Homo sapiens: one gene and its partners. The protein of the gene in region 2 purifies or fractionates together with the protein of the main gene of each other region. This does not show direct contact. Each region holds a gene or a part of one and is shown on either strand. Other genes may lie near its edges.

Evidence for each region.
Region 1: the proteins of RNF220 (region 2) and SMURF2 purify together in Homo sapiens (affinity purification with western blotting; one study listed by BioGRID). This does not show direct contact.
Region 3: the proteins of RNF220 (region 2) and LMNB1 purify together in Homo sapiens (affinity purification with western blotting, with the first as the bait; one study listed by BioGRID). This does not show direct contact.

The regions. Positions count from the first base shown.
Region 1 is NC_000017.11:64,655,715-64,659,365, forward strand, and holds part of SMURF2 (E3 ubiquitin-protein ligase SMURF2), read right to left. Parts: intron 1-3,651. UniProt on the Homo sapiens protein: E3 ubiquitin-protein ligase which accepts ubiquitin from an E2 ubiquitin-conjugating enzyme in the form of a thioester and then directly transfers the ubiquitin to targeted substrates.
Region 2 is NC_000001.11:44,639,237-44,642,887, reverse strand, and holds part of RNF220 (E3 ubiquitin-protein ligase RNF220), read right to left. Parts: intron 1-3,651. UniProt on the Homo sapiens protein: E3 ubiquitin-protein ligase that promotes the ubiquitination and proteasomal degradation of SIN3B. Independently of its E3 ligase activity, acts as a CTNNB1 stabilizer through USP7-mediated deubiquitination of CTNNB1 promoting Wnt signaling.
Region 3 is NC_000005.10:126,818,564-126,822,214, reverse strand, and holds part of LMNB1 (lamin-B1), read right to left. Parts: exon of another isoform or gene 3,294-3,651; coding exon 3,073-3,293; intron 1,306-3,072; coding exon 1,080-1,305; intron 1-1,079. UniProt on the Homo sapiens protein: Lamins are intermediate filament proteins that assemble into a filamentous meshwork, and which constitute the major components of the nuclear lamina, a fibrous layer on the nucleoplasmic side of the inner nuclear membrane.

The DNA of each region.
Region 1 (3,651 bases), on a different chromosome or scaffold from region 2:
CATCTCCACCCAAAAAAAATACAAAAAAAAATTAGCTGGGAGTGGTGGCATGCACCTGTAATCCCAGCTACTAGGGAGGTTGAGGCAGGAGAATCACTTGAACCCAGGGGTCAGAGGCTCCAGTGAGCCAAGATCACGCCACTGTACTCTAGCCTGAGTGACAGAGTGAGACTCCGTCTCTTTAAAAAACTGGCCTAGTGAGAATACTAAACTAAATTATAAAGCTACAATAAAAAAAACAGTATGGCACTGAACAAGAGCTATATCTGACTCTATAACTAATATAACTGAAAAGATACTACATCACTGTGGAAAGGAAGAATTGGTTAATAAATAATGACAAGATGGCTAAATAGCAATTGCAGGGGAAATAGTTTATTAAACCATTTTTTAAAAACATTAAATATAATGTACTTATTTATCAAACTTCTTGGAGAATAAGTTCTTCCAAGTATAGAATAGGAAAAACAAAACAAAAGTTGGACAGATTTTGACTCCTAAGATAACACATTTCTACATGTCCAAACAATGAACAATATTAAAAGACAAATAATTCATCATGGAAATGTTTGTAGCAAATATGACAACAGGTTAATATATTTGTAAGTCTCAGGTAGATCAATAAGAAAAACACTAAGGCTCTAACATAACTAGGACAAGGCCAAACAAGTCAATGAAAATAAATATCATTAGTAAACAGACAGGAAAATATTCTGCTTCACGAATGTTTAAATGGCACATGCCATGAAATTAGCAAAAAATGTAAAATGCAATTAGCTTATACTTATAACAGAATAGTAAAAAGGGACATCTTTATTTACTGCTGCTCTAAATAGGTCCAACTCTTGTAAGAAGCAGCCTAAAGGAAAAATTACTCATGAAACCTTAAAAATATCCACACACTTGAACTCAGTAACACTATTTTTATGGAAGCATCCTAAAAAAAAAGAATCCTTAAAAAAAAAATCAAAGTTACCTACACCAAGATGTTTACAGCAATTATTTGTAATAAAAAATTTGGAAATAAACATTCAAACAAAAAAATCTGAACGATGGTTGCTGTTGAATCTGCTTAACCAGTTATCCTAAAACCAGTCTTCATGGTTCCCATTCCAGTCCATCCTCCATACTGCTCCCAGATTGTGTCTAAACAGCAAATATATTAAAGCTTAAAATCCTGCAATGGTTCCCCCCACCTTAAAAAAAATGAACATCTTGGCAAACTACAGTAAGGTCCAAACTAGGTTGGTCCCTGTCTAGAGCCTCACCTCTTGCCACTCATACCCAATGCATTAGCCATAAAGAACACATGCAGAACTATTCGGAAGTATTTATAGCTCTCCAGCATTCATTAAATAAAATGCCAAAAAGGTCTTAATCCATACTCACACAAGGATGCTGGCTTCATGGCACTTAAAGCATAGGAACAATAAACGCCTACCAGTGGGTTAGGTCTGGTACTAGAAGAGCTTCTTAGAGTCATAGAGGACAGTTCAACTCAGGTCAGGGAAAGTTCTAGGGATAACAGTAATCTTTGAGTTGAGCCTTAAAAGATGGGCAAGTATTGCTAGGGGCGAGGGCATTCATAATTATACTGAGTCATGAATAAAACATTAAGTTCTACTAAGTATGGTCTATTTGAAAAGAGGAGGACATATTACGTCTTTAAGACTCTCACCAAAAAAGGCTCAAATAGGCCAGGCATGGTGGCTCACACCTGTAATCCCAGCACTTTGGAAGGCTGAGGCAGGAGGATCTCCTGAGCACAGAAGTTCAAGACCAGCCTGGGCAACCTGGAGAAACCCCATCTGTACTGGAAAAAAAAAAAAAAGGTAAAAAAATCAGCCAGTCACAGTGGCATGGACCTGTAGTCCCAGCCAGTTGGGAAGCCAAGGTGGGAAAATCACCTGAGCCGGGAGGTCAAGGCTGCAGTAAGCCGGGATTGCTCACTGCACGCTGTTGCCACTGCACTCCAGTGTGGGCAACAGAATGAGATTCTGCCTCAAAAAAAAAAAAGGCTAAAATAAAAATCTTGTATGCCTAAGCATGACCCTTCATTTATCTTTAAAACTGAGTTATGTTAAATGAGATGTTAGTATGTTGTGATAGTAATAGCTCAACCAACAAGAAAAAAGTAAAAGTGATGACTAAAATACACAGACTTTATTACGAATACCAAACTACAAAAAGGACCTTGGCATGTTCTACTGCCTGCCTGAAGAGGGTCAGACTAGAAGACAGAATTTAAAAGAAAAGGAAGGAGCTCAACTACACTGGCTTCCTCCTCAGAAACCAAGAAAATAAAACAAATTGGGGACATTCAAATCACTAACACCTCTAGTATATAAAGTCATTATGGGCCGGGTGCCGTGGCTCATGCCTGTAATCCCAGCACACTGGAAGGCTAAGGCGGGCGGATCACCTGAGGTCCAGAGTTTGAGACCAGCCTGGCCAACGTGGCAAAACCCGTCTCTACTAAAAATACAAAAAAAACCAGCCAGGCGTGGTGGTGGGCGCCTGTAATCCCACCTACTCGGGAGGCTGAGGCAGGAGAATCACTTGAACCCGGGAGGTGGAGGTTGCAGTGGGCCGAGATCAAGCCCTTCAACTCCAGTCAAGAGTGAAACTCCAACTCAAAAAATAAATAAATAAAGTCATTATGATGTATAGGCATACTTAAAAACCTGTGAAATAGAATTAAGCTACAATTTTTAAAGCCTTGAATCGATAAAATATGTAGTGAAACAAGATTAAGACGCTAGCATATCTAAAGGGAAATTTTTAAAGTTAAACTTCCTTACATTATAGACAAGGTTAACCTCCTTATTGCCAAGGGCTTTGAAATTAATAACATGAGAAGCAGCATACAAAAACATTAAATGTATAAAAAGGTCTGAAACAAATGTTCTGGAGGAGTAATCTTATTCTGCTTCTCCATACCTAAGAATTTAAAATATTAGAAATTACACTAAACTGCTTTTTCCAGCCTTTGGTTTTCAGAAACAATAATGGTATAAAAAATTATCCCAAAGTTTTTACTGTAAAGAATATTTTTCTATCCAAACCATTGAAAGAAAAGCCTGTATCAGATATAAGTATAATGATATAGACATTATACATTTTGTAATCAATGTTATAGAAACAGTAGTTGAAGTTGATAGTGTTACCATACAGCCCATTTCAATGATCATATGTTAATGTGTCATAAAGAACAGAAGTAGCTTGATGGATGAAATCAGATTCTAACCCCCAACTGCCTGAGGAATCTAAAATTTGGGATCAAATTATTAAATTAGCCCCACCTTCTTAGCATTGACAAATACCAAACAGTTCACTGATTGTGGTTTTAAGAATAATATGTGGAAAGGTTTAATATCAATTGTGGGCAGAGATCTCATGGCTTAAATATTTCCTCTTCTTCAGAGAGAGTGTGTATGAGTGTGTGAGTGTGTGTGTGTGAGTGTGTGCATCACCATGTAAGAAATGTTTATACCTTTCAGCAAAGGGGCAATTCCACAATAAAGTTATTATCAAGTAACTAAAGTTTATACAGCATCTTGAAATCAAAGGTACTCTATAAATTTAAAATACTAATATGGTATTAACTTAAAGCAAAGAACAATAATTTTAAAACACCTTATAGCCCAAGTG
Region 2 (3,651 bases):
TTGCGGCACCCAAGTCCTGCCAACCCCCCTTCCCCAAGTACACGCAGCTCAGCAGCTGGCCTCACATCTTCTGCTCGGCCTGGCCCTGCCTAGCCCTGCCTTATAAGTGGAAAGCAGAGAACCCTGGCACCACATGTGAGCCCAATATGGCTCCATGGCAAAGCAGAGAAAACAGGGTACCCCAAAGCTGCCAGGAAAAGCCCCAGCTTCTCAACGCAGAAAGCAGCCCTGTAGCCTGAAGTCCTTTTCTCTGTAGTCTTACTGCCCACCATGCCTGGCCCAGGACTCATACTCCATTAAACAGAGCTACTGTGGTCTCCCAAATCCTGTGCTTTCTCATGCCCCCATGCCTCCGCACCTCCTGCTCTCTGCCTAGAACCTTCTCCCTCCTGGTCTACAATATACATGCCTGCTCCTTTGGCAAGTCTGACTCAGCCCAACCATGCCTCCTACCATTAACTCACAGTGCCCACACAGAGCAGCTGCTCTCTAAATCCCTGCTAAAGGAAAGAACTCTCACCTCAATGCCATTCTTTCAACCTTTATTGGGCTCATCCTCTGTTTGGCTCCATGTTGAGAATAGAGAGCTTCAAGATCTGATCCCTATCCTCATGGTGCTCTGCGTGGCAGATGGGGCTTCCCACGTTCTTATACACAGGTGTCCCTTCCCTGGTGTCCACCCAGAATCCTGTGTAACTCCAAAATCATATTTATTACCACCTATTGTCACTGTCCCTCACCAGAGTGGAAGCTGCAAGGGTCCCAAGTTTGACTCACTGTTGTGATCTCAGCATCACCCAGCAGAGCTGGCCAGGCTGATGGCTGGTGCCACACAGCACACCCCAGCAGTACTGGCTAAACACTGGCGACACTGCTCTATTAGGTCCTAGTTAGCTGGTGGCCTAGAGAAATCTCTCAGGATACAACTTTCCTTATCAGATCCCAGCTCCCAGCCGGGCAGCAGCTTTCTGTTCCGCTGGCCAGTGAGGCAGGATGGACAGCACGACACACTTTGTTTGCCAAAGAAAAGGCCTCTGCCTCTGGTCTGAGCCATTCACTCTGACCCTGACCCCATCCTCCAGCTGAGACAGATGTTGGGAACCTCTCCCTACCCCCACAGGTGTTCAGAACAGGCTGCTGCTGCCAATTTCACTCTTGTGCTGCCCCAGCCTGCTCCAACCTCTTTCCCAGCACATTAAACTTTATTTTCTTAATGAAATGTCACTTGCTGACTTCTGGCAGAATCATAATAAAAAGAAACGGCCATAAAGCCGTTTTATGCAGACAGCGCCCCCGCCAGCTTGCCCCCCCTCCCGCTTGGAGAGGAAGGCTCCACAGTCGTTTGATGTTCTCAGCTGCTGGAATATCCCAAGCCAGTACTCAGAGGCAAGATGGCACAGACAGCTCCTTTCCAAGTCTCTGGCTCCTCTTCCATGTAGCTCCAGCGATAACAGGCAAGCTGCCACTCCTACTACTGCTATCTAGGGAAGGAACTCAGCCCCCAGGACCTCCAAGATGGCCCAGAGTACCCTTCAGTCACCAGGGAGGGCCTCTTGCTACAGTTCTGCCCCAGCTTAAAGTGGCATAAAGGCCTGAGCCCCCACCCATAGGCAACCTAAGCCTGATGGTCAATGATACCCAGCAGGGTGGTGCCAGAGTTGTCCATTCCTGGCGGGGTGGGTAGTGCAAAAAAAAATATCCTTCTCCTCACAGTGAAAACTGAGCAACAAAGAGGGAGAGAGTTAAGTGCAGAAATGAAACACAGGTCTACGTTTTATAAAAACGACCCTTCTCCCATAAACTCATTTCTTCCTGGGTTATTGAGAAGGGAGAAAAAAAAAATCAGTGTTAATTTAATCAATTGATCAGATGATCGATTGAGAAACTGGAGATGCCCGTTTACTGGGGGCAGTATCGTCCTGGAACCTGAAACCACAAAAAAGGAGGCATCGATTTCCTCACCTGCTGCTCCCAACAAAACCAGAGCCCAGGGAGAAAGGAAACGTCTCGGGGCCCTCCAGGGGCCTGTGCTCTCCAACACGGAGGGCAGGGGCAGCAGCTTCCGGCGAGTTTTACACTGGAATTAGTTACAGATGCAGTTACGGTGTCTTGTGTAAACGCCATCGATTGGGGAGCTGACAGTCTGGGGAGCTGCGATGCGGGACAATCAATCGGCCTGCAGTGTCACCTGCCACCTCGCTGAACAGTTGACAATGCAATTATCCAGTGTGGAGGCAGGGAGTTGGCGTGTGTCAAACGCACTTAGCCACTTTCCGGGCCTCCTCGATAACGCGTTTCACTGCCTCACGTCAGGAGAGACGCAGAGAGACAGACGCCGTTTAAAACCATTGATACTTGCTCCTTCTGCCTGCACTCCCTCTGTCCTAGCTTAACAATTGTGTTCCAAAAGGCGATTAAATCCCATCAGTTGCCACGGGGGACAGAAGGTGCCTTGCTCCTTGCCACCTCTCCTCACCCCTCCCAACAGGCGACAGAGAGAACTAAAGATGGTAGGGAGTCACAAGGCAGCAGCCCAACCCTCTCCACTCCAAGACCGCCTCCAGCAGTGTGCTGTTCCAACACCTGTCACTGGCTGGACCAACAGCAGAGCTGCACTGGGGGACATTTTTAGCACCTGGGGCTCCCTTCTTTTGAGAACTAGCACACCAAAGAAGGCAGCAGCTAGGGCAAGGCCTATGTGCCCATGCCCTGGGGCTTACAACACCTCTTACCCCCTTGCCCCATACTTCTGGCGCTGAAGTTTTATCAAGAAATAGCCAGATAAAAGATTTGTGCCAGGCCGGGTGTGGTGGCTCATACCTGTAATCCCAGCACTTTGGGAGGCCGAGGTGGGTGGATCACCTGAGGTCAGGAGTTCAAGACCAGCCTGGCCAACATGGTGAAACCCCGTCTCTACTAAAAATACAAAAATTAGCTGGTTGTAGTGGCACATGCCTGTAATCCCAGCTACTCGGGAGGCTGAGGCAGGAGAATCTCTCGAACCCAGGAGGTGGAGGTTGCAGTGAGCCGAAATCGTGCCACTGCACTCTAGCCTCCAGCCTGGGTGAAAAAGTGAGACTCTGTCTCAAAAATAAATAAATAAAAAGGAAAAGAAAAGAAAAGAAGAGAAAAGATTTGTGCCACAGCTGCTCTGCCTGTTTGCTTCATGACTTCTCATCCAGCTACTTGGAACCGGCTTAAATGTAAGGAACTCATGAAAGATAAGAAACGCTTCAGGCCAGGACCTGAGCAGGACAAAGACCCTGCACTGCTGACTGTCTTAACACCCTTCTTTTCCCTACCCACTCCTCCTGTTTGGTTCAGAGGGGCTTCATGCTGGATTTTAGCAACGCAGTCACCGCCAGGGCTTAAAGATACAGCTGCAGGCTTCCATTTCCTGTGAAGCTTCCTGGGAAATTTCTCCATCTCACCACTCTTGTGCCCACATCATTGCCACCTTATTTGAAACCAATCATTCCCATGTCCTCTTTCCAGCATGTCCCTTCCAGATGTGAGGAGCTCTGGGCTCCCCAATGCAGTTGGGTGAACTCTCACTGGCAACCAACACACAGGAGGGACCATGGTTCACCACTATAGGTCTCTTCTCCAGGATCCAGGAGCTGGATGGAGGACAGGAGAGGAAAGGCATGG
Region 3 (3,651 bases), on a different chromosome or scaffold from region 2:
AGTTGGAGACCAGCCTGGCCAACATGGTGAAGCCCTGTGTAAAAATACAAAAATCAGCAGGCGTGCTTGCGTGCACCTGTAATCCCAGCTACTCAGGAGGCTGAGGCAGGAGAATCTCTTGAACCCAAGAGGTGGAGGAGCCAAGATCATGCCACTGCACTCCGACCTGGGCAACAGAGCAAGACTCAAAAAAAAAAAAAAGGCTACAAAGAGACCTTAGAGCCTATTCTCTTTAGCATTAAAACTGTTGGTGCTCATTAGTGCTCCTTCACTCATCCAAATTACATATTCATCCACATGCAAGATAGTTTTAATAACTGTGGTGAGAAAAGACTAATTTTCAAAACTACTTTTAGCAGGCCCTGAACATATGTTTCAAGATGTGACATCCATCCCACTGCCGCCTGCACGCTCCCAGACCATGCCTTCCTCTAGTATCATCTCACAACCCATCATGGCCTCCAGCTCCTTGATGCAGAGCTAGGGAAGGCCCACACTACAGAGCTCCCGAAAGCCCCAGCCCTAAATTTCAGAAATCTCTGCTATGAATACTTCATGTTTACTTTTAAACATATTTCAAAATAAGGCTTCATGCTATTTTTCATGTAAAGTATTAGCATTTGTTCATTCATTTATTTGCAGGGAAAAATATTCCCTTAATATCTGAGTCCAGGCTCTTATCTCCTTCTTTCAGTAAGCTTTTTATTAAGTTAATGACCGAAAGAATATCCACCATTTTCATCCAATTGCTCCAACTTCTTCACAAATTTGGCTAGGGCAGAGAATAATAATAACTCATCCTCAGAACCACTGTGATAAAAGGAACATGCTTTTCAAAAAAGCCCTGGCCCTCTAAAGAAGGGTTAATGAAGCAAATCTTTAAACTACTAAGGGTACCTAACTCTTCCTCCTCCTATTTTAATTTTTATTTTATTTTATGAATTTAAGTAAAAAGGACATAAACCCTTATTCCATGAAGACGTAATGAATCCAAACAAAAACTAAGGAGCTATGACAATTGCAAGAGAATCTAGCAATCCACAAAGCCTTGCTAGAAAAAAAAGGGTCTATTTTATTACCTGTTCAGAAGTGTTCTTCAAGCGGATAAATTTCCCATCAACATCAATTTCTTCGATGCAAACATTTCCAGTGGCTGAGGCGGAATGAGAGATGCTAACACTACTACTCGCCTCTGATTCTTCCACATCAACCCTCTTCCGCTTTCCTCTAGTTGTACGTACACTACGACTTGAGGATGCTCGGGATACTGTCACACGGGAAGAAGGGCTTGGAGACAGCTTCAACCTATATGGGAAAAATAAAACAATTCATTTTTAAAACACATATGCCCTTCTCGCCTTAAAAAAAAAAAAAACAAAAAAACAAGGGCTGGGCACAGAGGCTCATGTCTGTAACCCAACAGCACTTTGGGAGGCCAAGGCAGGTGGATTGCTTGAGGTCAGGAGTTCAAGATCAGCCTGACCAACATGGTGAAACCCCGTCTCTACTAAAAATACAAAAATTAGCCAGGCGTGGTGGTGGGCGCCTGTAATACTAGCTACTCAGGAGGCTGAGGCAGGAGAATGGCTTGAACCCGGGAGGCAGAGGCTGCAGTGAGCTGAGATCACACCACTGCACTCTAGCCTGGGTGACAGAGTGAAAACCTGTCTCAAAATAATAATAATAAGAAGAAGAATATCCCACCCATGCATTTCTAAAGCAAAATATTACTTACAATCTGTTAGCCAAAGCCAAAGTTTACCTTAACTAATGTAAACTTCTTCATAAGGTGCCCATCGTCAATTTTCTTTTTTAAAAAATAACAATCTGAATGTTTTCTCTAGGGATGGAAGTAATATAACCATAATGCAAGAAGTCTGGTAAATGGGTAGAAAGTCATCTGATCTACCACCACCCACCACAGCCACTGTTATAGTTGGTGTACTTTTTTCTCTTTTCGTACCTGTACTTTCTTATGATCACAACGGATATAATATTAAAATTATCTGGCTTTTTATCCTAAATCAGCCACTTTCCTTTTGGAACTTTTTTTTTCTTTTTCTTTTTTTTGTGAGACAGAGTTTCACTCTTGTCACCCAGGCTGGAGTGCAATGGCACAATCTTGGCTCACTGCAAACTCCACCTCCCAGGTTCAAGCAATTCTGTCTCAGCCTCCCAAGTAGCTGGGATTACAGGTGCCTGCCACCATGCCCAGCTAATTTTTGTATTTTCATTAGAGACGGAGTTTCACCATGTTGACCAGGCTGGTCTTGAACTCCTGACCTCATGTGATCCGCCTGCCTTGGCCTCCCAAAGTGCCGGGATTACAGGCATGAGGCAATGCACCTGGCCCTTTTGGAACTCTTTTCTGAGAACAGGTGTCAAAAATATTTATACATTGACCAGATTTAAAATATATATAAAGCCAGCCGGGCGTGGTGGCTCACACCTGTAATCCTAGCACTTTGGGAGGCTGAGGCGGGTGGGTCACTTGCAGTCAGGAGTTTGAGACCAGCCTGGCCAACATGGTGAAACCTCTTCTCTACTAAAAACAAAATTAGCCGGGTGTGGTGACACACGCCTGTAATCCCAGTTACTCAGGAGGCTGAGGTAGGCAAATCGCTTGAAACCAGGAGGTGAAGGTTGCAGTGAGCCGAGAATCACACCACTGCACTCTAGCCTGGGCAACAGGCTGAGACTCTGTCTCAAAAATAAATAAATAAATAAATAAATAAATAAATAAATAAATAAATAATATGTAAAGTCTCTTTCAGCCAGTTTGGCATTTTACAATATATTAAATCACCAAAACACTTAAAATCTCAAAGGAACTAATCCATCCTGATGCAGTTCAGCATTTAAAGTAATAATAATAAATAAACTAAGAGTACTTGAGCAACATTTTCTGCGATGAGGTAGAAATATGATCTATTACTACTTCTATACCTAGGTGTTCAAAGAAATGACCAAGAAAATAAAGTTCTTTTTAAAATGCTATTTATTTTTATTTCAATAAAAAGGGTGAGAGGCAAAAAGTGGACCATAAGGTAGGGTGACCCTTAAGTTCCTTACCTCTCTTCTTCGCCTTCTAAGAGTTTCCTGTAAGCACTGATTTCCATGTCCAGGGCTAACTTTACATCAAGAAGCTGTTCATAGTCATTCAGCTGTTGCTGCATTTGATCCCTTATTTCCGCCATCTCTCTCTCTTTGTCTGTCAGCATGCGACGAGAGTTGTCTTTTTCTTTAGCAAGCAAGTCCTCTAATTCTTGAATCCTTTCCAAACATGCTCTAGACTTAAGATGCAAGGAAACATATTTACTTTCTAGGAACATTCCAACATTAGCACCAGGCAGCTATTTTAAATCATTTCCTAGACTGGAAAACAGTACAACCCTATGGAATCTCTAACTCACTAGAATTCAAGAGATTTTAAGAAATTAAAACCCAAAATTCCTCAAATACAAAACACAGACCTCAGGATAGTTTTGGCTGATAAAAGAATAAAAGACATATTCCACAAATGTAAGTTCTGTAAATATACATATAATTTTTCTGTACTTAGCCAAAAAAATGTTAAGATGTGGTTTTGGTAAAAGTCAAGTCTGGCTCCCTTACAAAGCCTTTACTTCCAAAAGTATAAATTAAATAAAG